7 linked regions of the Homo sapiens genome follow. The protein of the gene in region 3 interacts with the protein of the main gene of each other region in a pairwise test. Each region holds a gene or a part of one and is shown on either strand. Other genes may lie near its edges.

Region 1 (3,500 bases), on a different chromosome or scaffold from region 3:
TAAAAAAAACACAAAATACTGGCATCCAAAAAATCTAAATTTGGTAATGATGAATTTTAAAAACACAAAAAAACCTCTCTACAATACTGAACAATCAAATGTAAGCACTTCCATGTAAGTATCTATTGATGTGGTAAAGGGAAAAGAAAAATGAGTAGAACTTTTAAGAAAAAAAACCTGTGTATTGGCCGGACACGGTGGCTCACGCCTGTAATCCCAGCACTTTGGGAGACCAAGGCAGGCGGATCACGAGGTCAGGAAATCGAGACCATCCTGGCTTACAAGGTGAAACACCGCAGGCGCAGTGGTGGGCGCCTGTAGTCCCAGTTACTCAGGAGGCTGAGACAGGAGAATGGCGTGAACCTGGGAGGCGGAGCTTGCAGTGAGCTGAGATCATGCCACTGCGCTCCAGCCTGGGCTACAAAGTGAGACTACGTCTCAAAAAAAAAAAAAAAAAAAAAAAAAAAAAACAAAAAACCTGTGTATTACGGAAATTTTCAAACATGAAATTAGAGATTAATATTAATTCTTAAGTCTCTACTATCCACATCCAGTTTCAACAATTATCAACTCATGGGTAGTTCTGTTCTTCCCTCCCTCCCCTGCCCGGGACTGAATTGTTTAGAAGTAAATCCCAAAAATGACATCATCTTATCGGTAAATATTTCAGTACACATCTCTAAAGTACTTTTTCTCAACTTTAATTACTGCCTCCCCAGCAAGGAGCCTTTGACTAAATTTTCTCCCGCACATGAAATTTTCACACCACAGATACACTGTGCACAACACGAGCAAGGTTTTTTCACCCCCAAAAAGACCAATATTCGCTCTGTTTGGGGGGATATAGCCTCCATTACGAATGCATACTCTAGAACATAAAGATCTCTAAAGTAGTAAACAAACCATAATACCATTCTCATGCCTACATTTTAATGGCAAATATCCAGTCGACAACTAGGTTTTTAATGTTTTACATGTTATTTCAAGGACATTGCCAATACCCAACATGTACACAACAGAAACAAAAGCAATCAGCATCCAGACTACCTATGCCTGACGCCTTCACAATCAACCTGAGCCCTCAATAAGTTGCACGCAGCAGCTTAGGTATTCTGTGGAGCTTCTTCCCAAAGTGCTGCTTCCAAACTACCTCCACCAAACCAGTAGGAATGCTACTTAAAAATTCCCACTCCTGGGGCTCCAGCCTGAACTACAGTTTACCAGAATATCAGGAGTAAGGCTACAAAATTAGCACCTTAAACAAGTTCTCACTCAATCTTAGACCTCCACTACTTAAGTTTGAAAAGCAGTGTCACTGCTGGTTCAGAGTACTGTTTTTTTGTTTGTTTGTTTGTTTGTTTTTGAATCGGAGTCTTGCTCTGTCGCTCAGGCTGGAGCGCAGTGGCGCGATCTCGGCTCACTGCAAGCTCTGCCTCCCGGGTTCACGCCATTCTCCTGCCTCAGCCTCCCGAGTAGCTGGCAGTACAGGTGCCCACCACTGCGCCCGCGGTGTTTCACCTTGTTAGCCAGGATGGTCTGGATCTCCTGACCTCGTGATCTGCCTGCCTTGGCCTCCCAAAATGCTGGGATTACAGGCGTGAGCCACTGCGCCCAGCCCCCGCAGAGTACTGTTTTTCTTCATTCCTACCCCACGAAATGTTCCTATTCCCAGGAGCCAGGAGTAGCAAAGTGGCCTTAAACTCCTCATTCCTCTCCCCCTACAAATGCTTAACACCATTTACCCAATACAAAGGCAGAAGAGCAAGCTGAAACCAAATTCCTTGTCATCCTAATGAGGAACCCACTCTGGAGGCCTCTGCTCTCATGCTCTGGGCTTGTCTTTACCTTTGCCTGAGTGAGAGCTGCCTTCTTCACCTGAAGCTGAGACTGCAGAAGTTTGAAGTTTTTGGACCAGCCTTCTGTTTTTGAGTCACTGGTCTCCACTCCTAGGTCATCGTACAGGGACATCTTTTCTTCAGTTTAATGCTGAAAGGCAAAAGGGGTGGGGATTAAAGAATGCACAATTCAATAAAGGCTTTTCATGTTAAAATAAGTATCATGAAATTTTAGAGGTAAAAGGTCCAGGACCTTTCAGCAACAGAGGCCCAGGCTCCTGGTACCATTAATGTAGGGCTATTCCTGATACATGAAGCTAGACCATGGATTATTTTTAAAATAAGCCTCTAAAATTCATTTTTCCATCTATAAGATCATGCAGTCAAGTGATCCATGAGTGAAATCCTTCAATGCTAGGGCACATAATGAGGTAAGAATTGGAACATTATTAATTACATATATCCAATTTTTAAAAAATTCTATTTATGTCAGTGCCAAAAAGTAGAAGCTTTACAAAAACACCAATTAGCAGGTTGATGTAGCACAATTAGCTACCCTTTTATAAAGAAAAAATTTAAACGTACTCCTAGGGAAAAAAATGACAGAAATGATCTCTTAGATGTGATTTTGTCAATTACAATTATCAAGGGGGGAGTAGACTGGTTACATCTTAAATACTCTGATTTCCTCATATCACACCAAGTGGAAATCTGTCATCTTTAATGATAGTGATTACAAAGAGACAATCAACAATCTGCATGTGAACGAGCAACACACAGCTTCCGTGCAGAACAGAGGAACACGTGGAAACAAAAACCGAGTCAGCAGGCGCAAAGCATGACATGCAATGCAGCATCGGCAGCAGGTCCCATGAAAGCCCAGCACTGCACAGACATGGATGCTGGGGTTTAGGGAATCAATCTGCCCAAGGCCACAGCGGAAGCCCCTTCCAACCCAGCCAGGCCAACTCCAGAGCCCTCGCCAGTGAACCCCAACTGCCACTTTTTAAAAAAAAAATCAACATTCTGAAACCCACCAACATAGCTTACTTCTTCAAATAAGAAATCAATCTCACAGACAGAAAGAGAACTTAATTTAAACAGAAACCCACAAATTGCAAGTAAATGCTTAGCACAGTAGTTCCCAGTTTATGGACAAATAAGTCTGTCAGTTCCCAGGGGGCCCATAAAGCATTTTCCCATGGAAACCGTGTTATTGAAAAGCCTAATTTGCTTGTGTTCTGTGGCTCAGGAGAGGAGGAAAATATTTAACACATACCCTCCTTAGGTCTGATTCGGCAAGCATTTCTCTTGAAGGTACTCTTACTTCTCAGCTCCCCCATTACAGGGATTCTAAGACCCTGCCGCCCCAACACCTTCGCTGATGTTGGTACCACACTGTGTGGAGTGGGGGACGGAGTGCACACCAACTTCTGTTCCCTCAGAAGAACTGCCCTGGTCTTAAGTACAGTAACTCCCTGCCTGAAGTCAGCACCCCAGAAAACTGTCACCACTTTTTAGTTTCTTCCATTCCTTCATACGTGAACCCTCAAATTAACTAAAACCTCTCCATTTTGATTTTTAAATGAAAGGTCCCCGCAAGGCCGTAGAGAAGCAGGGAAAGCAGACTGTCCAGGGGTATTGATGGCCGACTGCTCAAATGAA
Region 2 (4,011 bases), on a different chromosome or scaffold from region 3:
CTGTGTGAAGGCATAACATACATGATTAAGTGGTTACTGAGAGAGAGTTAACAGAATATGGAGATATTCTGACATAAGACAGAAAAAAATTACAAAGTACTGTCCTGGGCCGGGCATGGTGGCTCACGCCTGTAATCCCAGCACTTTGGGAGGCCGAGGCGGGTGGATCACAAGGTCAGGAGATCGAGACCATCCTGGCTAACACGGTGAAACCCTGTCTCTACTTAAAATACAAAAAAAATAATTAGCCGGGAATGATGGCGGGCGCCTGTAATCCCAGCTACTCGGGAGGCTGAGGCAGGAGAATGGCGTGAACCCAGGAGGCAGAGCTTACAGTGAGAAGAGATCGCACCACTGCACTCCAGCCTGGGCGACAGAGCGAGACTCCATCTCAAAAAAAAAAAGTTCCTGGACCCACCTCTCAAACTACCCATTTCCCAATAAGATGTGACCTCCAAAGGGGCTTAACAGATTTAAAAACATCAAATAACACAATCAGGGAGGGAAAGACAAAACGTATTTATTCCAGGCCAGGTCTTAAAATGCACACTGCACGGTTCCCTGTTGTTATCAGCACCAGTAAGGAAAGAACGTGCCTTAACGGCAGCCCCACCCAGAGCCTGCTGCGTGGCTGCTGTGAGGCTCCCCATGAATCCACGCAGTCTTCTTCCTCACTGGTGCAGTTGGTGAGGTTTTCTACCCTCACAGCAAAGGGATCCTTAACTATAAATTCACGGTATGCAGAGAAGAGGACAGAATCTGATTTACTGATTGTTCCTCATTTAAACCATGACTTAATCTCTATCTTAGGATTTAACTATCTTTATTTTCTGGTTAAAATTTTTAAAAAAAGTGGGGAGAGGGTGAGAGTCGTAAGGGGCAATAGCAATAGAGATTACACTGTGCTGACACAGAGACTAAATTCTAGTCAGAGTGAAGACCCATATAAAAGGCCGGCTGATGGTTTAAAGGAAGTAACTACATGGAGTCTAATCGAGACATTCATGAGTTACATCTCATTATTAGCCTTAGTAATGTAAGAAAACAATTCTCAACAAAACTGGAGTCCACAGTTGTCAAGTATGCTTTCTCAGGCACGGGTAGGTAAAAGTCTGGAGAAATGGGTTCTCTCCATGCCCAATGACAAAGCAAGACGGTCCTAGGTTTGAGGTTAAGAGCAGGTCCCATTGCCGGGCGGTATCCGCAGCTCACAGCTGAGTTTAGCAGTGGAATCGAGTGGAGAATTTGGGAGATACAGGCACAGTCAGAGGCTGGTCACTTGACTTTATCTCCAGACCCTGGTACTTGCGTATTGGATTTGCCTTATGCACCTGCAAAGTAAGGAAAAGTTACCAGTGAGAGGGATGTCAGAGAACTACGCTTATAATTGCTTTTATTTTTTTCTTTTTGAGAAAATGTTTGTAGAGTTTTACAGGTCCCAGTCACTAGTTTCAGGTGTGGGGAGTGGGGCCTGGGGGGCAACACGGTATGATGGAAAAGTGTATGTGCTTTGGAGCCCAAAAGGGTTTCTATTCAGGTCTCTATTGGGTCCCCCAGCTTTCCTTTAGGCCACAGTCTCCTCAAGTCCCTCAGCTTTCACTAAAGAATGCCAAACCTATGTCCTGTGTGATTTACTAGGGTATAATAGGGCTGTACTCAAGTATAGCAGAGAAGTTACAAGCTAAGAATTTCCCAGAGTACAGTCTTAAGTTTACTGACTATAAATATTCACCAAAAGCCTGAATCCTGGGGAAAAAGCAAAAACAAAACACAACAACCATACCAGGAAGGGTGGCTAAAGAAGGCATGGTCCCATCCATCCTTTAGGGTAGTCTAAAATCAATCCTAAATCAAGCCAGATTAGTAGAGAGTTAACCAGCATTGACTGAATTGTGCTTTACAATGTTGCCATCAGTTATGTTGAGAATTGCTGCAAGAAGCAGTTCTATAATGGGGACAAACACAAGAGGCAGGTACCAAATGCTAAAGAAAAATCAAAGTTGAGGCCGGGAAAAAAGGCTGATTGTATGAGTGTATATAGAGTGGGGATTATACTATTTTCTCATTCACTCAGCAAATGGTAGTCTAGATTTTACCAAGAGGCTGGTCTCCTAAATAGTGTGTCCGTGGAACCTTCCTATGGGCATAATCACCTATGCCAATAGCTGCCAATAGCTGTTTCAACTGCTAGTCTAGCATTTTATTTATTTATTTAAAATAGAGATGGGACTTTGCTATGTTGCCCACGCTTTTCTTGAACTCCTGGGCTCACGCAATCCTCCCACCTTGGCCTCCCAAAGTGTGAGGATTACAGGTGTGAGCTGCCACATCCAGCTGTAGTATAGCACTTTTAGACAAAACCTCAACAACTTACACTTCTTTTTTTTTTTTTTTTTTTTTTTTGAGACAGTCTCGCTCTGTCACCCCCAGGCTGGACTGCAGTGGCACAATCGGCTCACTGCAACCTGGGCCTCCCAGGTTCAAGCAATTCTCCTGCCTCAGCCTCCCGAGTAGCTGGGATTACAGGTGCGTGCCACCATGCCCGGCTAATTTTTGTATTTTTAGTAGAGACAGAGTTTCGCCATTTTGGCCAGGCTGGTCTCCAACTCCTGACCTCAAGTGATCCACCCACCTGGGCCTCCCATAGTGCTGGGATTACAGGTGTGAGCCACCATTCCTGGCCTTCTTTCTTTTTAATTGACAGATAACACTGTATATTTTTATTGTGTACCGCTGATGTTTTAAAGTAGACATACATTATGGAATGGTTACTATGTGAGATAATGCATTTGTTAATTAGCAAGATGCTAATTAACATTGTAGTGTGAGCACATAACATCCACTTATTGTAGTGTGAGCACATAACATCCACTTTCTTTACAGTTTTCAAGAATACAATATATCATTAACTACAGTCACCTTGTTATATGATAGATCTCTTGAAATTTACTCCTCCCATCTAACTGTAACTAAGTAACCTTTTACCAACATCTCCCCATGACCCTTTCTTTTTTTATTTATCATACGAAGTTCCATCTAAAACTGTCTGCTTCTTCATTAACACAGTTAACACAACTTGCTGCCCTCCTAGCAGATTGGTCCTTAATGTGGAGTTCAGGTTTCTTTTTGGATAACCAACATCTAAATAATTATGTTAGTAGAGGATTACCTGGAGCGACGAACACTGTAACTCCAAGGAGTTTGGGCTCAGTATTAAAACAAAAATACAGTTGCCATTTAATTCCCATGTCCTTCGCTATGTATTCTTGTCTAATTACAAAACTCAGTGGTGCTTCTTAACCCCAGAGGAAATAATAAGTTACATAAATAAAATAAACAAATAAATAAAAAACAGTCCTAGGAAAGGCATCATGGTTATACCACATGTTGTCCTCCTTATGAAAACTTCCGGAAGAAATTCTGTCTAAAAATTCACTATCAAAGGGATAAATGTATTTTTTGAACAACTGTCTTATGTCTCATGAACACTGCGAGTTTTGTAACTGACAGGTTGGTTCCTAAAAAGGGCCAAAATTACAGCTCCTACTTAGATCACAATGTACACATCGTTAGCTTCATTCACAACTCAACTTCATCACCACCCTCAGTTTGTGCAATTCCCCCTTTCACTCATTGTCTTTGGTACAGCCTTGCGGGCTACCTTAGATCCTGTCTGGTACAAGGTAAGGTACAGGTAAAATAAAACAGAGGCATGTTTGTGTTCGTCAGTGCTCATGCTCCCAGTTACCAGTTCTCTCCGTAGCCTGGCCAGCTCCTCTTTTTTCTGCTCTTCCTCCTGTAGTCTGGCCTCCTCCAACTGCTGGGCTTTCTGGGCTTCTACCTCAGCCATTCTCTTCTCCAGCTCCTGCCGCTCTTTGGCTCTCTTCTCAGTAGCCAGCTGAAAAGGTTCCTGAACTAGAGAACCAGAAAGGCCCTCTAAGTACAGAAACAGAAAAAATATTGGTGCACAAGCAGGACTTGCATAAACCTACGCCCCCTGGAATGAGCAAG
Region 3 (3,500 bases):
GTTTGTCAAATTTCTCTTCCTGACAGTGCTGATACTTGAACACATTGAAATCTTGAAGAAAACAGGTAAGTCAACAATTAGCTCACTACAGAAATGGGCATACCTAGTGAATTAGTACCTTTGGTTAACATTCTAAGGTTATTTAAAAACACAACTTGTTTTCCATTTCACTGTCAGAGCTGGGTAAAATGAAAGACAAGCCCAGCCTATCTTTGCCTTTTCATCCACTCGATTCTGAATCACTTAGGAAAATATGTAAGTGACGGGGTCAAACAATCCTCCCATCTCAGCCCCCCAAGTAGCTGGGGCTACAGATGTGCACCACCACACCTGGCTAATTTTTGTATTTTTTGTAGAGGTGGGGTTTCGCCTTGTTACCCAGCTGGTCTTGAACTCCTGGACTCAAGCAATCCGCCTGCCTCGGCCTCCCAAAGTGCCAGGATTACAGGTGTGAGCCACTACACCTAGCCAAGGCTAAGGTTAAGGTCATGGAGGAGGCAGGCATAGTATTAGGAAAGCCAATTAGAGAAGAAGCCAGCGGCTCACTCTGTGAAAGTTAACAATAAACAGGCCAGGCGCGGTGGCTCACGCCTGTAATCCCAGCACTTTGGGAGGCCGAGAAGGGCAGATCACGAGGTCAGGAGATCGAGACCATCCTGGCTAACACGGTGAAACCCCGTCTCCACTAAAAAAATACAAAAAATTAGCCAGGCGTGGTGGGGGGCGCCTGTATTCCCAGCTACTCTGGAGGCTGAGGCAGGAGAATGGCGTGAACCCGGGAGGCGGAGCTTGCAGTGAGCCGAGATCATGCCACTGCACTCCAGCCTGGGAGACAGCGAGACTCCATCTCAAAAAACAAAAACAAAAACAAACAAACAAAAAACAATAAACAAATACCTCTTCCCTGACAAGTTAGTTTTAGAATCAGCACTAGATAAGGAGTGGGGCAAGTTCGTGTTCTCTAAGAAAAAGGGGCCTAGGGGATAAGAGGGACTAGAGACACTACCTCATGTCAATCTCATTAAAAGTTGTCAGCATTGCACATGTATTCTGGGCCTCCTTCAGACGCTGAGCAATGCGCTGCCGCATCCTGTTCATTTTCTCCTGAAAGTAAGAGTGGAACAAGCATTGACAATCTGATCTCTCTGGGTCAAGCATTCCCCGTGTAGTCAGAAAGAACACGGCTTGCCACGAGTAGATGGCCAAGGACTACAGTATCTAAGTACACGAGCTCCAGGCTTCCCTTTCCTGTGGTGGCCCTTTCTCCTCCAAGCAAAAACATGCAAACACAGGCCAAAACTACTCACTCAGATGTGCCTAAAGCTTGACCAAGAATGAAGGCTCAGAAACAGTGATTTAAAAACCAAAACCCATTTATAAAAGAATGTAGTGTAGTGTAGTCTAGCCAACATAAGAATCATAAGAAAAAGGGCACTTTCTGTTGATAAAGATTTGCATAAGAATAGCTATTTGTGGAACAGAACCTCATGAGCAACAAACTTTCGAGGCTATCATATTTTTAGGAAGTATTCTCAGGCAGAGGAACCACAATCCTGACCATACTTCCTTGAGGCTTTATGTCTGCACCTGACAGCTATTGCTACTGAGTATTATCCCTTAGCTACAGCTAAGTATCCCAGAAGTATAGGAATAGAGCTCACTAAACCACCTCTCTGAAGCGTGTGACATCGTGGGAGGACGGGGGTGAGTTACTAAGCTACCACCCCTACAAATATTTAACTTACCCAAGGCTTTCACTGGTAGCATAATATAGTAGGAAAACCACTGAACAAGTGTTCAGAAGACCTCAGGTTCTAGTCCTATCATTTGATGGTTATGTGACTATGAAGAAGTTATATCCTAAACTCCCTTTATCAAGGTTGAGGGAATGAGCTGCCAGGCATTCAAAGGTAGGCATCACCACACCCATACTCCACTAATCTCAACACTGCCCCCTGCCTCTTTCCTGAAAGTGGTCCTCAGAGGCTTACCCGATGTTCTGAACGCAGACCTTTGCCAGCTCCTGGCTCAGCTAGTGGTGGGGCAACAGTGGGTTTTACTGCAGACACTGAAAATGAAAAGAGGATAAAGCTGCATCAGACAAGGAAAGAAACATCTGCTGAGTTTGTGCCAGTGCTTTCATATGTACTGTTACTTAATCTTCAAGATATTCTGAGGTATATTAGTATCACTCCAACTTCACAGATGAACAATCTGTTCAGATAAATTAAGTGACTAGCCTAAAGACACACAGCTAGTAACAGAAAGCTGAGATGCAAAGCAGGCCTTTGGATACAAAGTCTAGAATTCTTTCTACAAAGCAGCCAACCTGGCCTGTTCAGAACCATCATCAGTCTAGAGTTTACCCTTTGAAGGAACATATTAGACGAGATGTTCTCCCACATGACATGTGGGAGTTGGAAGCCTACCAGGTTTGCCAGAAGGAGGCTGTGAGGGCGAGGGCACCGGTGGCATCTGAGTGGGTATGGGTGCTGCAGGGGGAGGAACTGCCGCTGCTGTAGGTTCTGCTTTTGGGGCTGCAGCAGCAGGAGCTTCAGCCGGCTTGGCCTTAGCAGGAGCAGCTGAAAAACAAGAAAAGTATATGCCACTGGCACTGTCTGAAATGAGAAGCAACCAAGCAAAATTTAGTGGCAAAAACTCTAGCTCCAATCAAGTAACGAATGTCTACTGGGTATCAGCAATATGCAAAGCACTATGAGACACACACACAATGACATAAGGCACTATTCTCTAGTCCTCAGGGTCCCTAAATGTCCATCAGATAACTGGCTCAACTTAGCTCCCTTCCCAATTTCACAGGTTTCCACTGAATAAATTCAGCAAGTACTTTCAAAGCACCTATCAAGCCCAAGAAAATGTAAACTTCCAAGGAAAAAAAAAAACACCTAGGCAATTTAAAATATTGAAATGCATACATAAACATATTTCTAATTACTGATACTCTTCATCCTCTATTTTAACATTATATATGCAAGAATACTATTAAAAAATAGGCTGGGTGCAGTTGCTCACGCCTGTAATCCCAGGATTACAGGCCAAGGGATTACTCCCCTTGGGAGGCCAAGGCAGGCGGATCACAAGGTCAACAGATCAAAACCATCCTGGCCAACATGGTGAAAGCCCGTCCCTACCAAAAATACAAAAATTAGCTGGGCGTGGTGGCATGTGCCCATAGTCCCAGCTACTCGGCAGGCTGAGGCAGGAGAATCACTTGAACTCCGGAGGCGGAGGTTGTAGTGAATCAAGATCAGGCCACTGCACTCCAGCCTGGCGACAGAGTGAAACTCCATCTCAAAAAATAAAATAGTCATCGAGGGTTGACTTAGGCTTAAGAAAGCACTTCATCCAGGATGACTCATAAATCACTGAAGTGGCCAAGTAATAATCTCACAACTTTAAATGAAATGTTTGTTTCTGTTTTTCACCCATCTGGACATTATATCCAGGGTTAGTGCTAAGACAAACTTCTGCAACAGGAG
Region 4 (3,500 bases), on a different chromosome or scaffold from region 3:
CTCTGACCAATCAGCACTCCTGGTTCCCTGGCATCCCCCAACCCACCAAGTTGTCCCTAAAAACTCTGCTCCCTGAATGCACGAATGCTCTGGGAGACTGATTTGAGTAATAACAAAACTCTGGTCTCCTACACAGCCTGCTCTGCGTGAATTACTCTTTCTCTATTGCAATTCCCCAGTCTTGAATCAGCTCTGTCTAGGCAGCTGGCAAGGTGAACCCCTTGGGTGGTTACAATCTGGGCACACTGCCTATGGGGTAGCCCTGCTCCACAAGGAGCAGTCCATCTGCTGCTGCCGTACGCTGCCACTTCAAGTAAAGTTGCCTCTAACACCACCAGCTTGCCCTTGAATTCTTTCCTGGAAAAAGCCACGAATCCTCACTGGCAAAGCCCTGATTTTGGGGCCTGCCCCTGCATCAAGAGCAACAAAATTGATAAACCTCTAACCAGATTGATCAGGAGCAAAAGAGAGAACACACAAACTACCAATATTAAGAATGAATGGGGTAATGTCACTAAAGACTTTAACATATTAGAAGGAAAATAAGGAGCTATTTTGAACACTTTCATAACAATAAATTTGAAAACAAATGAAATGGACAAATTTCTTGAAAGATACAAACACCAAACCTCACTCAAAAACAGCTTGAGTCTTCCTATTGAATTTGTACCTTAAAATCCTTCCACAAAGAAAATTCCAGCCCCAGATGGCTTCACTTGTGAAGTCCAGCAAACGTACAAAGGAAATCATGCCAATTCTACAGAAACTCATCCAGAAAACTGAAGAAAAGGGAAACTTCCCAACTCATTCCATGAGGCCAGCATTACTGTGATACCAAAACCTGGCAAATATATTCTAAGAAAACTACAGAACAATATCTCTCTTCAACAAAGATACAGAAATTCTAAGCAAAATTTTCAGTTCAACACCAATAATATATAAAAGATTTAACCATCACAATGAAATGAGGTTTATCCCAGGAAAACCATGGTTAGTCTAACATTCAAAATCAATCCAAGTAACTTACCATGTAGATAAACTAAAAAAGAAAAATCATAATAATCTCAATAGACTCAGAAAAAGTATTTGACAAAAATCTAGCATCTATTTCTGAAAAAACTCTCAGCAAACTAGGACTGGAGAAAAACTTCCTTTATTTGATAATGGGAACCAATAAGAGAAACCTGTGGCTAATACTATACTTAATGGTATCAGACTAAATGCTCTCCGTAAGATCAGGAATAAACAGGTTTGCTTTCATCACTTCTGTTTAACATTTACTGATGATTCCAGCCAGTGTGATAAGGGAAGAAAAGCATCCAGATGGGAAAAGAAGTAAAACTGTTTTTATTCACAGATAACATAATTATCTGTATAAACATTGATGGAATCCACGCAAAGGCTATTAGGGCAAATAAGTGAATTTGGGAAGATTTCAGGATAGAAGATCAATATGTAAAAATCAACTGCATTTCTATTCACTAACAAAGAATAGTCAGAAGGTGAAATTTAAAAAAATCATAGCATCAAAAAGCGAAATATTTAGGAATAAATCTGACAAAAGATGTGCAAGAACTGTACACTGAAACCTACAAAATGTTGCTGATAGAAATTTTAAAAGACTTAAATAACTGAAGAGAGATACCATGGTTCATGGGTGAAAAATTCAATATTGTTAAGAAAACGGTTCTCTCTCAATTGATCTATGGATCCAGTATAATCTCAACCACAATCTTCTTTTTGGGGCCCGGGACAGTGGTTCAAGCCTGTAATCCCAGCACTTTTGGAGGCCAAGGTGGGTGGCTTGCTTGAGACCAACCTGGGCAACATTGCAAAACCCATTTTTTGTCTCTATAAAAAATACAAAAATTAGCTGGGCATAGTGGCACATGCCTGCAGTCTGTAGTCCCAGCTACTCGGGAGGCTGAGGTGGAAGAATTGCTTGAGTCCAGAGGTTGCAGTGAGCCGTGATTGCATCACTGCACTCCAGCCTGGTCAACAAAGGAAGACCCTGTCTCAAAAATAAAAATCTTCTTTTGGGGTGATGAAAAAATTCTGGAATTAGATAGTGGTGATAGTTGCACAATCTTGTAAATATACTAAAAGCCACTAACTTGTGCACTTTAGTGGATTTATGTTATGTCAATTACACCTCAATTTTAAAAAGGGGGGAACACAATCAGTCTAATTTACCACTTAATAGAAGAAAAAATTATGATCATTTAATAGATGAAAAAAACATTTGATATAAACAAATTTTGTTTGATTAAAAAAAAACCTGCTAGTGAACTGAGAAAGAAATCCCTTAGTTAAATAAAGGGTAGCTAGCTATAAAAACCCTACAGTCAAGATAAACATCACACAAATAGTGAAATGTTATGATACTAAGGCGTTACTTGTGAATCAGGACTGAGACAAGGATGTTCAGAATCCCCACTTCAATTTGACATTATACTGGATGTACTAACCAGAGAAATAAAACAAGAAAAAGAAATGAAAAAGTATAAGGATTAAAAATGAAGAAACAAAACGGCCATCATTCAGCTATAGAACTGATTGTATATGCAGAAAACCCCAAAGTCTTTACAGATTAATTTTTAAAATGAATAAGCAGGTTTAAAACTTACTGGATATGTGAACAGTTTGCAAAAAGCAATTGCTTTTTTTTTTTTTTTTTGAGACAGAGTCTTGCTTTGTCGCCCAGGCTGGAGTGCAGTGACGCAATATAGGCTCACTACAACCTCCGCCTCCCAGATTCAAGCAATTCTTCTGCCTCAGCCTCCCAAGTAGCTGGGATTACAGGTGCCCACCACCACACTTGGCTATTTTTTGTATTTTTAGTAGAGACGGGGTTTCACCATGTTGGCCAGGCTGGTCTTGAATTCCTGACTTCAAATGATCCACCCTCCTCAGCCTCCCAAAGTGCTGGGATTACAGGTGTGAGCCCCCACACTCAGCCAAAAATCAATTGCATTAAATAAAACCACAGTGCAATACCATTACATGTCCACTACAATAGCTAAAATGGAAAAGAAAGTATCCAGTATTGGCAAGGATGTGGATGGAGCTCTGAGAACCCTCATACATTGCTGGTGGGAGTGTAAATGGATGCAATCACTTGAGAAATCGGGCAGTATCTACTAAAACTGAGTATGTGCCCACCCTGTGACTCAGCGATTCCACCCCTCAGTAGTTACCCAACAGAAATGTGTGTATGTGTTCACTGAAATATATGTATACAAATATTCATGGCGGCATTATTCAAAATAGTCCCAAACTGGACACAGTCTCAATGTGCAACTGTAGAAAGGACAAATAAGTTCTGGTGTATTCAAATAATGGAAAGTAATAAAAAATGAAAATGAACAAACCACACAAAAAACCACAATGAATTTCATAAACATAATGAGTGAAGGAATCCAAGAGTAAGAGTATTGAATCACTGTGTGATTCAACTGATGTAAACTCCAAAAACAGATGAAACTAATGGATGTCGTTAG
Region 5 (3,500 bases), on a different chromosome or scaffold from region 3:
AATACATATATATCATATTCTTCCACGTTAATAGCTACACACCTGCAGCCTATGTTTTTGTAGCCACTTGGTATTCCAAAGTATAGACATGCCATGGTTAACTAATGTATGACTGTTGGTCTCCATTTGTCACTATGGAGTGTTATCATTATTATAAATAATGCTGCGAGGGACATCCCCATACACATACTTTTCTGCATTTATCCAATTACATCCCTAGGGGCAGAATTCCTAGGGGTGGAACTGCTGAGTCAGGGACTTGTTTGGGAGGGTTGTCAACAGAGCATTAAGAGTAAAATTACACCAAGATGATGAATTCTGTCATAGAAAGTTCTCTTTCTCCACACAGACTTTTCTCCAAACCTCCTTCCAAAAACAGCCAGGTGTTAAACATTTACCAGGACGTCACTGGTCACAACCTAGGAATGCAAACCATGAGCAGACTCTACTTGGGTGTCTATAACTTTGCATAGTGATTCAGAAAGGAAGGGACCATCCGTTCCAAAAAAAACCAGTCCCTCCCTCCCCACCTCTCCAGGCCTCCTCTGGAGACACACCATGCCGGAGTCCTGAGGTGACACTGATATACAAGACAGGCAGGATTATACTGGGTTAATGTCCACTGAATTCCCAGGAGGAAGGACTCTAGGAGGGGCCAGTGCTGGGTGTCTCATGGTGGGTGGCACACATGTAGTCCACAGGAAAGGTTTTTTGTCATTAAAGGTTTTGTTCTTGTATAGACAGAAGGACAAGGCAATGACTCTTCTGAAAGAGATCAAGGGTTAGAAGGGACATATGGAATCATTTAATCCCTTGCCTTGGAGATGGGGAAACTGAGAACCAGAGTCTCACAGCATAAACATTTCAATAATCATTAGCCAGACGCAGTGGCTCATGCCTGTAATCCCAGCATTTTGGGAGGCTGAGACAGGTGGATCACTTGAGGTCAGGAGTTCAAGACCAGCCTGGCCAACATGGTGAAACCCCATATCTACTAAAAATACAAAAATTAGCTGGGCATGGTGGCATGCACCTGTAGTCCCAGCTACTTGGGAGGCTGAGGCAGGAGAATCGCTTGAACTTGGGAGGTAGAGGTTGTAGTGAGCCAAGATCGTGCCACTGCATTCCAGCCTAGGCAACAGAGTGAGACTCCAACTCAAAAAAAAAAACACAATAATAATCATAATCACTAAATGCACCCCAGAAGTGTCTCGCATGCAGGTGAGGTTCAACCGGTTTGGGGCAGCGCTTGAACATATCCCATGACTTGGATGCCTAATACAAATCTTATCCTCCCCTCCGCATGTACAGAATTGGAAATTAAAATCACTGGGGTCACATGCTGACTTAGTCATGGCCCGATGTGTGCTGGGGCCAGATCCTACTGGCTCCCAAGTGCCAATGGCGCACAACTCTTCCCAACTGAGTGTTCACTGATACCAGGTTGGTAGAGTGAAGTCAGCCATAGTGGGAATATTTATTTATATCATATAAACTGGAAAACACCACAAAGCAGGGCTTCCCCCAAAGCCCCTACCAAGAGCCGGGTGTTAAATATTCACCAGCACGTCGCTGGTCACAACCTAGGAATACAAACCATGTGCAGGTGACCTCAGTTTCCTCACCTAACCTAAGAGCAGCCTCTCTCCAAAGCACTGTAACTCTCTATGTTCCACCATAATACACACTCTGAAATCCATCATAGCCTGCTTCTAGCCAGCAAATGGTTTTCTACATGCTTGCTATGTGCCAGGCTAAGCACATGATAGCCCATTTGACCCTCACAATATTGCTGTGAGATACTTATTATAATTCCCATCTTACAGTTGTGGAAACTGAGTCTTTTCTTTTCTTTTTTCTTTCTTTTTTTTGAGAGGAAGTTTTGTTCTTGTTGCCAAGGCTGGAGCACAATGGCGAGATCTCAGCTCACTGCAACCTCCGCCTTCCAGGTTCAAGCGATTCTCCTGCCTCAGGCTCCTGAGTAGGTGGGATTACAGGCGCCCGCCACCATGCCCGGATAATTTTCGTATTTTCAGTAGAGACGGGGTTTCACCATGTTGGTCAGGCTGGTCTTGAACTCCTGACCTCAGGTGATCCACCCACCTCGGCCTCCCAAAGTGCTGGGATTACAGGCATGAGCCACTGCGCCCAGCCTGAAACTGAGACTTTTAATGACTTTTAACTATAAGTTAAAGCCTGTCTTAGGTTGGTTTCACCCAAAAGTAGATCGTGAAACAAGAATTCAAGTTCAAGTACAAAGGGAGTGTACAAAGTACAAAGTACACTCCCTTTGTACTTGAAATGTACTTGAGATGAGGAAGTGAGCAAGCTAACACTATGAGCAATTGAGATTCGGTCCTGCAAGGGAATTCTTAGAGACAGCACAGAACATGCCCCAAACTTATCTCAAAAGAGAGGCGAGGAAGCTGGAGTATTTGCACACCTTCTCCCATCAGTCATTGGTTGAGACCAGTGGAACATGGGCAGGAGACTGACAGCATCTATTACATTATTCAGTATCCCACAGCTAGGAAATGGTAAGATGCAATTCAAACTCCAAATCCAATACTCTTTCATGACATTTATAAAAATGAGCAGTTAATCACACTTCACTGAATGCCAACTACGGTTAAAGCACCGTGCTGATGAAGGAAATCTACTTTGCCAAATCACTTTGGGTCGACATGTTCAAAGAAAGCACAGGTATTTCTCTGCCAATTTTCACCAATTGAAGGAACAGGAAAGGGCCTTGGAAGTCATTTTGCCCGTTCCACAGGAATGGATGAGAGGGTCCCTCTCTGGTTCTGCCACAGCTGCCTTGAGCAGCAGCAGTTCCCCAGCCCCAAGCTGTCACCGCAAACAGCAGCATCAACCTGTGATGACAGACTTTAGAGTCTGCCATCCCAGAAGTGATAAAAAATGACCCACTGGCTGCATAGCCCAAGTCAGAGGATGTGCCACCCTCCTTCCCTGGTGCCTCCTGCCCCATTCACCAACCCCCGCCTCACACGGCCATGTGGTCCACAGTAACCAACAAGCAGGCCAAATAAATGAAACCAGCCGTGAGACCTGTGGGAGCTCACTCCACCTTGAGGACATTTATACATTCTTCTGGGCCAGGCACAGTGGCTCATACCTATAATCCTAGCACTTTGGGAGGCTGAGGCAGGAGGATGGCTTGAGGCCAGGTGTTTGAGACCAGCCTGGATAACATAGCGAGACTTCATCTCTATAAAAAAATAAAAATAAAAATTTAGCTGGGTGTGGTGGCATATGCCTGGGGTCTCAGCTCCTCAAGAGGCTGAGGTGGGAGGATCGCTTGGGCCCAGGAGGTTGAGGCTGCATGAGCCATGATTGCACCACTGCACTCCAGCCTGGGCGACAGAGAGAGACCCTATGTCAAAAAATAATAATAATAATAAATATAAATAAAAAATAAAACTTCTTCTTGGAGACAGGGAAGTGTTTAAATAGGACAGTGTGTCATTACAGTAAACAAC
Region 6 (3,500 bases), on a different chromosome or scaffold from region 3:
GGGTGGCTGGGGGTCCAGCCCTGGGGTCGCGGGCACACCTGGGCATACCTCAGGACGACCTGCACGGCTTTAACTCCGGGCTGCAGTTCCCTGTGGGTGTGGAGCAAACCAGAGGAAAGGAAAGGAGAGCTGAGTGAGGAGGGCGTGACCCCAGCCCACCCGACAAGGTGGAGACCGCCACACCACAAGGCTCCCTCCCCCAGAGCTGGGAAACTGAGGCCCAGGACTCTTTTGTACGGGCTGGGTGAGAGGAGTGGCTGTGAGGTCAGGAGAGGGGCTGGCCTCCCTGGAAAATGCAACAGAATCCACAGCAAAACCCTGAACCAGAGAGGGCAGCCAGGTGCCTCTCCCTGCGAAGAAACATAGCTAAAACGTGCATGCGGGAATCTAGCAGCTGGCTCACAATGGCAAGAAAACACCCAGTTTGGGAGGTCAAGGCTGGCGGAGCTCTTGAGCCCAGGAATTTGAGACGAGCCTGCGCAACATGGTGAAACTGTCTCCACAAAAAATTACCCAGGCGTGGTGGTGCACACCTGTGGTCCCAGCTGCTTGGAGGCTGAGGCAGGGGGATCGTCTGAACCCATGGAGGCACAGGCTGCAAGCTATGATTGCACCACTGCACTCCAGCCTGGGTAACAAAGAGAAACACTCTCCAAAAAAAAAAAAACAAAAACCAGTAACACCTGAGGATAAACTTTAACAAGAAACGCCCCCAGAAGAAGAGGAAAAAGTCTATCTACCCAAAGACGCATCCGTGGATGTTCACAGCAGAACTGACCACAACAGCCACAAACTAGCAGCATCCTGAGTGTCCTTCCGTAGACCGAAGGACCAACACGCACGGGACGCGACCCAGCCATGGAAAGGAGCCAGGCTCAGACCCAGGCCTCAGCACAGGTGCACCGTGAGGATGTCCCACCCAGTGAGAGACGCCAGACACGAAAGGACACACAAGGCAGGTGGCTCACGCCAGTAACCCTGGCACTTTGGGAGGCGGAGGTGGGTGGGTCACTTGAGGTCAGGAGTTCGAGACAAGCCTGGGCAATATGGTGAAACCTCGTCTCTACTAAAAATACAAAAATTAGGCCAGGTGCAGTGGCTCACGCCTGTAATCCCAGCACTTTGGGAGGCCGAGGCGGGCGGATAACAAGGTCAGGAGATCGAGACCCTCCTGGCTATCATGGTGAAACCCCGTCTCTACTAAAAATACAAAAAAAAAAATCAGCCAGGCGTGGTGGCGGGTGCCTGTAGTCCCAGCTACTTGGGAGGCTGAGGCAGGAGAATGGCGTGAACCCAGGAGGCAGAGCTTGCAGTGAGCCAAGATCGTGCCACTGCACTCCAGCCTGGGCCTCGGAGTGTGACTCTGTCTCAAAAAAAATACAAATATTAGCTGAGTGTGGTGGTGCACGCCTGTAATCCTAGCTAGTCAGAAGTCTGGGGCAAGAGAATCACTTGAACCTGGGAGGCGGAGATTGCAGTGAACTGAGATCGCGACACTGCACTCCAGCCTGGGCGACAGAGTGAGATTCTGTCTTAAATAATAATAATAAACGAAAGCCACATAGTATGTGATTCCACTTCTATGAAATGTCCAGGACAGACCCATTTACAGACAGGAGGGGATGCGTGGGGGCCAGTGGATGAAGGGTGGCAGCTGCTGGGGATGGACATGACTGCCCTGAGACTAGGCAGTGGTGGGAGCTGCGATACCTACTGATCCACGAGAACCCACTCGATGACACCCTTAAAAACTGTATATTCTATGGTATGCAAATCATATCTCGACATAAGAAAAAGAAATGTGGGATGGGCAGGGTGGCTCACGCCTGTAATCCCAGCACTTTGGGAGGCAGATGTGGGGTGGATCACGAGGTCAAGAGATTGAGATCATCTTGGCCAACATGGTGAAACCCTGTCTCTACTAAAAATACAAAAATTAGCCAGGCGTGGTGGTGCGCACCTGTAGTCCCAGCTACTCGGGAGGCTGAGTCAGGAGAATCGCTTGAACCTGGGAGGCAGAAGTTGCAGTGAGCCGACATCACGCCACTGCACTCCAGCCTGGCGACAGAGCGACTTCATTTCAAAAAAAAAAAAGAAAAAGAAAAAGAAATGTCCAGAAGCTTTCTGAGGAGAAAACCAAACTTTTTTTTTTTTTTTTTTTTGAGACGGAGTCTCCCTTTGTTGCCCAGGCTGGAGTGCAGTGGCAGGATCTCGGCTCACTGCAAGCTCCGCCTCCCGGGTTCACGCCATTCTCCTGCCTCAGCCTCCCGAGTAGCTGGGACTACAGGCGCCCGTCACCACACCCGGCTAATTTTTTTGTATGTTTGGTAGAGACGGGGTTTCACTGTGTTAGCCAAGATGGTCTCGATCTTCTGACCTCGTGATCCACCTGCCTTGGCCTCCCAAAGGGCTGCGATTACAGTTGTGAGCCACCGTGCCCAGCCCAAACTGATTTTTTTATACTGTGTGGCTGGCTCTGAGCACTCTGCAGCAGGGACCCAGTGCAGGTGGAGGCTGTGCTGACCCAGGTACATAGACAAGGAAGACGAGGCTGAGAAAGACGAGGTCGCCACCTTGGGTCACCCAGGCAGAGAGGCCTCCATGGCCAAGCCTGGCTCGGCTGGATCTGAACCCTTACTAGGTGTGAGGGCCAGGCTGGGAGGCCCCAGGAACCTGGCCCCACAGCAGGTGGGGGCGGTGGGTCTGAAGCGGCTGGGCACGAGAAGCTAGGCATTAAATGGGGGCGCCCGGCCCAGCCCTGCCATGGACTCAGGGGTGACCTGGGCAAATGGCCTCCCCTGTCCTAAGGGCCCAGCACCTACCATTAGCCTGCCCAGCAGGAATCTGTCTCAGCTGGAGGCAGTACAGCCTCGGAGAGACTGAGGGAGGAGCAGAGCGCAGGGCAGCCACACTGGCCCCTCACCTGCCACAGTTCAACCGTCCTCATCTGAGGACGACCCTGCCCCAGGCGACACCGAGCTGTGTCTGGGGACATCTGTGGTTGTCAGAGTTAGGGGTGTTCCTGGCACAGAGCAGGTGGAGGCCAGGGATGCTGCTCAGCAGCCTGCAGTGCCCAGGACGGCCCCACCGAGGGAACCATCCCACCTCACTATCCACGGTATGGAGGGGGAAACCCCGTATTCATTATATAACTGGGAAAAAACCTGACTTCCGCCAGGCGCAGTGGCTCACGCCTGTAATCCCAGCATTCTGGGAGGCTGAGGTGGGTGAATCACCTGAGTCAGGAATTCGAGACCAGCCTGATCAACATGGCAAAACCCTATCTCTACTAAAAATACAAGATTAGCCGGGCGTGGTAGTGAGCGCCTGTAATCCCAGCTACTTGGGAGGCTGAGGCAGGAGAATTGCTTGAATCCAGCAGGTGGAGGTTGCAGGAAGCCAAAATCGCGCCACTGCACTCCAGCCTGGAAGCCTGGATAACAAGAGCTACACTCAGTCTCAAAAAAAAAAAACAAAAAAACACCTGACTTAACTTCCTG
Region 7 (3,500 bases), on a different chromosome or scaffold from region 3:
TTTTGTATTTTAGTAGAGACGGGGTTTCACGGGGTTAGCCAGGATGGTCTCGATTTACTGACCTCGTGATGCGCCCGCCTCGGCCTCCCAAAGTGCTGGGATTACAGGCGTGAGCCACCGCGCCCGGCCGCCATCTTTAATTTCTGTAAACATCCTATTTTATTACTGCCTGAGTCTCTCCAAAATTCCTGCAGAACCCGGGCGCGGTGGCTCACGCCTGTAACCCCAGCACGTTGGGAGGCCGAGGCGGATGGATCACGAGGTCAGGAGTTCAATACCAACTTGGCCAAGATGGTGAAACCCCGTCTCTACTGAAAATACAAAAAAATTAGCCAAGCATGGTGGCGGGCGCCTGCAGTCCCAGCTATTCAGGAAGCTGAGACAGAGAATTGCTTGAACCCAAGAGGCGGAGGTTGTAGTGAGCCGAGATCACGCCACTGCACTCCAGCCTGGGCGGCAGAGTGAGACTCCGTCTCAAAAAAAAAAAAAAAAAAAAAAATTCTGCAGAATTTGCTAAAAATGAATTGATGACCACCAGCTACTCAAGAAGCTAGGGCAGGAGGATCGCTTGAGCCCAGCTGTTCGAGGCCAGCCTGGGCAACACAGCGAGACCCTGTCTCTAAAAAAATAAAAATAAAAATAATTGAAGACCAAAAAGAATCAGATCCAGAATACCTAGGGCCCATTTCTTCTCTGCAGGTTGGTCAGCACTGGGAAGGTCTGCATGTACCCCTAGCACATGCGGTGGGGGGATCTGTATGTGACCCTAGTTTCTGTGCCTATAAATGTCCTGGCTCCCTTCCTGGCTCTAAGGCCCTCAAGCTGATAGCAAGAGGGCTATACCTAAACGTGCTGCTGCTTTGGGACACACTGAAAAAATAAAAAGTGAACCCCAACATGATAATAATCGGATCATCCCGCTTTAAAGAAGAAACTGAGGTATGCTTGCTAGTTAGTAGAAGAAGAAAGAACTGAGATCTTCAGGTCAGCTTCTTTCCATGACATGGCTGCAGGCCCACCATTAAAGCCTGCTACACATAGGCCGGGCACGGTGGCTCACGCCTGTAATCCCAGCACTTTGGGAGGCCGAGGCGGGTGGATCACGAGGTCAGGAGATCAAGACCATCCTGGCTAACACGGTGAAACCCCGTCTCTACTAAAAATACAAAAAATTAGCCCGGCGTACTGGCGGGTGCCTGTAGTCCCAGCTACTCGGGAGGCTGAGGCAGGAGAATGGCGTGAACCTGGGAGGCGGAGCTTGCAGTGAGCCAAGATTGCGCCACTGCACTCCAGCCTGGGCGACAGAGCCAGATTCCGTCTCGGGGGAAAAAAAAAAAAAAAAAGCCTGCTACACATACATTCTTTTTTTCTTTTTTGAGACAGAGTTCCAGACTCTTGTTGCCCAGGCTGGAGTACAATGGCACAATCTCGGCTCATCGCAACCTCTGCCTTCCGGGTTCAAGTGATTCTTCTGCCTCAGCCTCCTGAGTAGCTGGAATTACAGACATGCACCACCACACCTGGTTAATTTTGTATTTTTAGTAGAGACAGGGTTTCTCCATGTTGGTCAGGCTGGTCTTGAACTCCTGACCTCAGATGATCTGCCTGCCTTGGCCTCCCAAAGCGCTGGGATTACAGGCGTGAGCCACCATGCCCGGCCCACATACATTCTTAAGATAGGAGACTGAGTTCCATGCCTTGAACTCACTGTGTGTCCTGGGCAAGTTATCAGTTTCCAGACTTCCTCACCCTTAAAACGGCTCAGATAGCAGCTTGTTTTGACAGTACGGTAATTCAGCCTTATAAACTTTTTTTTTTTTTTTTTTTTTTGAGACAGAGTCTCCCTGTCGCCCAGGCTGGAGTGCAGTGGTGTGATCTCGGCTCACTGCAGCCTCCATCTCCCACATTCAAGCAATTCTCCTGCCTCAGCCTCCCGAGTAGCTGGGATTACACGTGCCCACCATCATGCCTGGCTAATTTGTTTGTTTGTTGTTGTTGTTGTTTTTGAGAAAGAGTCTCGCTCTGTTGCCCAGGCTGGAGTGCAGTGGCGTAATCTCGGTTCACTGCAACCTCTGCTTCTCGGGTTTAAGCAATTCTCCTACCTCAGCCTCCCGAGTAGCTGGGATTACGGGTACACGCCACCATGCCTGGATAATTTTTATATTTTTAGTAGAGACGGGGTTTTATATGTTTTAATGTTGGCCAGGCCGGTCCTGAACTCCTGACCCCAGGTGATCTGCCTGCCTTGGTCTCCCAAGTTGCTAGGATTACAGGCGCCAGCCAACGCGCCTGGCCAATTTTTGTATTTTTTAGTAGAGACAGGGTTTCACCATGTTGGCCAGGCTGGTCTCGAACTCTTGACCTCAAGTGATCCTCTTGCCTTGGCCTGCACAGTGCTGAGCCACTGTGGCCGGCCTCTAAGCTTAAATTTTTTTTTTTTTTTTTTTTGAGACGGAGTTTCGCTCTGTCACCAAAGCTGGAGTGCTGTGGTGCAATCTCGGCTCACTGCAAGCTCCACCTCCTGGGTTCACACCATTCTCCTGCCTCAGCCTCCCGAGTAGCTGGGACCACAGGCGCCCGCCACCACACCCGGCTAATTTTTTGTATTTTTAGTAGAGATAGGGTTTCACCGTGTTAGCCAGGATGGTCTCAATCTCCTGAACTCGTGATCCGCCTGCCTCGGCCTCCCAAAGTGCTGGGATTACAGGCGTGAGCCACTGCGCCTGGCCTTTTTTTTTTTTTTTGAAATGGAGTTCACTCTTTTTGCCCAGGCTGGAGTACAATGGCGCGATCTCGGCTCACTGCAACCTCTGCCTCCTGGGTTCAAGCGATTCTCCTGCCTCAGCCTCCCAAGTAGCTGGGATTACAGGCATGAGCCACCACGCCCCGCTAATTTTGTATTTTTAGTAGAGACAGGGTTTCACCATGTTCCGGTCTCGAACTCCCGACCTCAGGTGATCCGCTCACCTCGGCCTCCCAAAGTGCTGAGATTTACAGGCGTGAGCCACCGCGCCCAGCAGCTTAAAAAAATTTCTTTTTTTTTTTTTTTTTTTTTTTTTGAGACAGTCTCGCTCCTTCACCCAGGCTGGAGTGCAGTGGTGCAATCTCGGCTCACTGCAAGCTCCGCCTCCCGGGTTCACACCATTCTCCTGCCTCAGCCTCCCAAGTAGCTGGGACTACAGGCGCCTGCTACCACGCTCGGCTAATTTTTTGTATTTTTAGTAGAGACAGGTTTCACCGTGTTAGCCAGGATGGTCTCGATCTCCTGACCTCGTGATCTGCCCGCCTCGGCCTCCCAAAGTGCTGGGATTACAGGCATGAGCCACCGCGCCCAGCCAGCTTAAAAATTTTTAAGTGCCTCAAATATAAGCAATTGCTGCCAGTTGTTTATGTAGGAGTTACCACAATTTGCAGTTATAGATGTATTTGCTCGTTACTTTTCTGCCGCCCCCATCAGGGAGTGCTGCAGGGAATAAAAGAGACAAGGTCTATGCCACATC

What was found.
Region 1: the proteins of DLST (region 3) and RBM17 interact in binary tests that used the Homo sapiens proteins (3 or more experiments, as listed by UniProt).
Region 2: the proteins of DLST (region 3) and TPX2 interact in binary tests that used the Homo sapiens proteins (3 or more experiments, as listed by UniProt).
Region 4: the proteins of DLST (region 3) and DRC7 interact in binary tests that used the Homo sapiens proteins (3 or more experiments, as listed by UniProt).
Region 5: the proteins of DLST (region 3) and RASSF2 interact in binary tests that used the Homo sapiens proteins (3 or more experiments, as listed by UniProt).
Region 6: the proteins of DLST (region 3) and PIAS4 interact in binary tests that used the Homo sapiens proteins (3 or more experiments, as listed by UniProt).
Region 7: the proteins of DLST (region 3) and MAVS interact in binary tests that used the Homo sapiens proteins (3 or more experiments, as listed by UniProt).

The regions. Positions count from the first base shown.
Region 1 is NC_000010.11:6,095,534-6,099,033, reverse strand, and holds part of RBM17 (splicing factor 45), read right to left. Parts: intron 1,987-3,500; 5' UTR 1,969-1,986; coding exon 1,846-1,968; intron 1-1,845. UniProt on the Homo sapiens protein: Splice factor that binds to the single-stranded 3'AG at the exon/intron border and promotes its utilization in the second catalytic step. Involved in the regulation of alternative splicing and the utilization of cryptic splice sites.
Region 2 is NC_000020.11:31,798,290-31,802,300, reverse strand, and holds the end of TPX2 (targeting protein for Xklp2), read right to left. Parts: intron 3,937-4,011; coding exon 3,749-3,936; intron 1,332-3,748; coding exon 1,221-1,331; 3' UTR 501-1,220; downstream 1-500. UniProt on the Homo sapiens protein: Spindle assembly factor required for normal assembly of mitotic spindles. Required for normal assembly of microtubules during apoptosis. Required for chromatin and/or kinetochore dependent microtubule nucleation.
Region 3 is NC_000014.9:74,891,916-74,895,415, reverse strand, and holds part of DLST (dihydrolipoyllysine-residue succinyltransferase component of 2-oxoglutarate dehydrogenase complex, mitochondrial isoform 1 precursor), read right to left. Parts: exon of another isoform or gene 3,358-3,500; intron 2,583-3,357; coding exon 2,430-2,582; intron 2,069-2,429; coding exon 1,992-2,068; intron 1,105-1,991; coding exon 1,007-1,104; intron 1-1,006. UniProt on the Homo sapiens protein: Dihydrolipoamide succinyltransferase (E2) component of the 2-oxoglutarate dehydrogenase complex. The 2-oxoglutarate dehydrogenase complex catalyzes the overall conversion of 2-oxoglutarate to succinyl-CoA and CO(2).
Region 4 is NC_000016.10:57,708,306-57,711,805, reverse strand, and holds part of DRC7 (dynein regulatory complex subunit 7), read right to left. Parts: intron 1-3,500. UniProt on the Homo sapiens protein: Component of the nexin-dynein regulatory complex (N-DRC) a key regulator of ciliary/flagellar motility which maintains the alignment and integrity of the distal axoneme and regulates microtubule sliding in motile axonemes.
Region 5 is NC_000020.11:4,817,109-4,820,608, forward strand, and holds part of RASSF2 (ras association domain-containing protein 2), read right to left. Parts: intron 1-3,500. UniProt on the Homo sapiens protein: Potential tumor suppressor. Acts as a KRAS-specific effector protein. May promote apoptosis and cell cycle arrest. Stabilizes STK3/MST2 by protecting it from proteasomal degradation.
Region 6 is NC_000019.10:4,024,736-4,028,235, reverse strand, and holds part of PIAS4 (E3 SUMO-protein ligase PIAS4), read right to left. Parts: intron 91-3,500; coding exon 49-90; exon of another isoform or gene 47-48; coding exon of another isoform or gene 39-46; intron 1-38.
Region 7 is NC_000020.11:3,849,834-3,853,333, reverse strand, and holds part of MAVS (mitochondrial antiviral-signaling protein), read right to left. Parts: intron 1-3,500.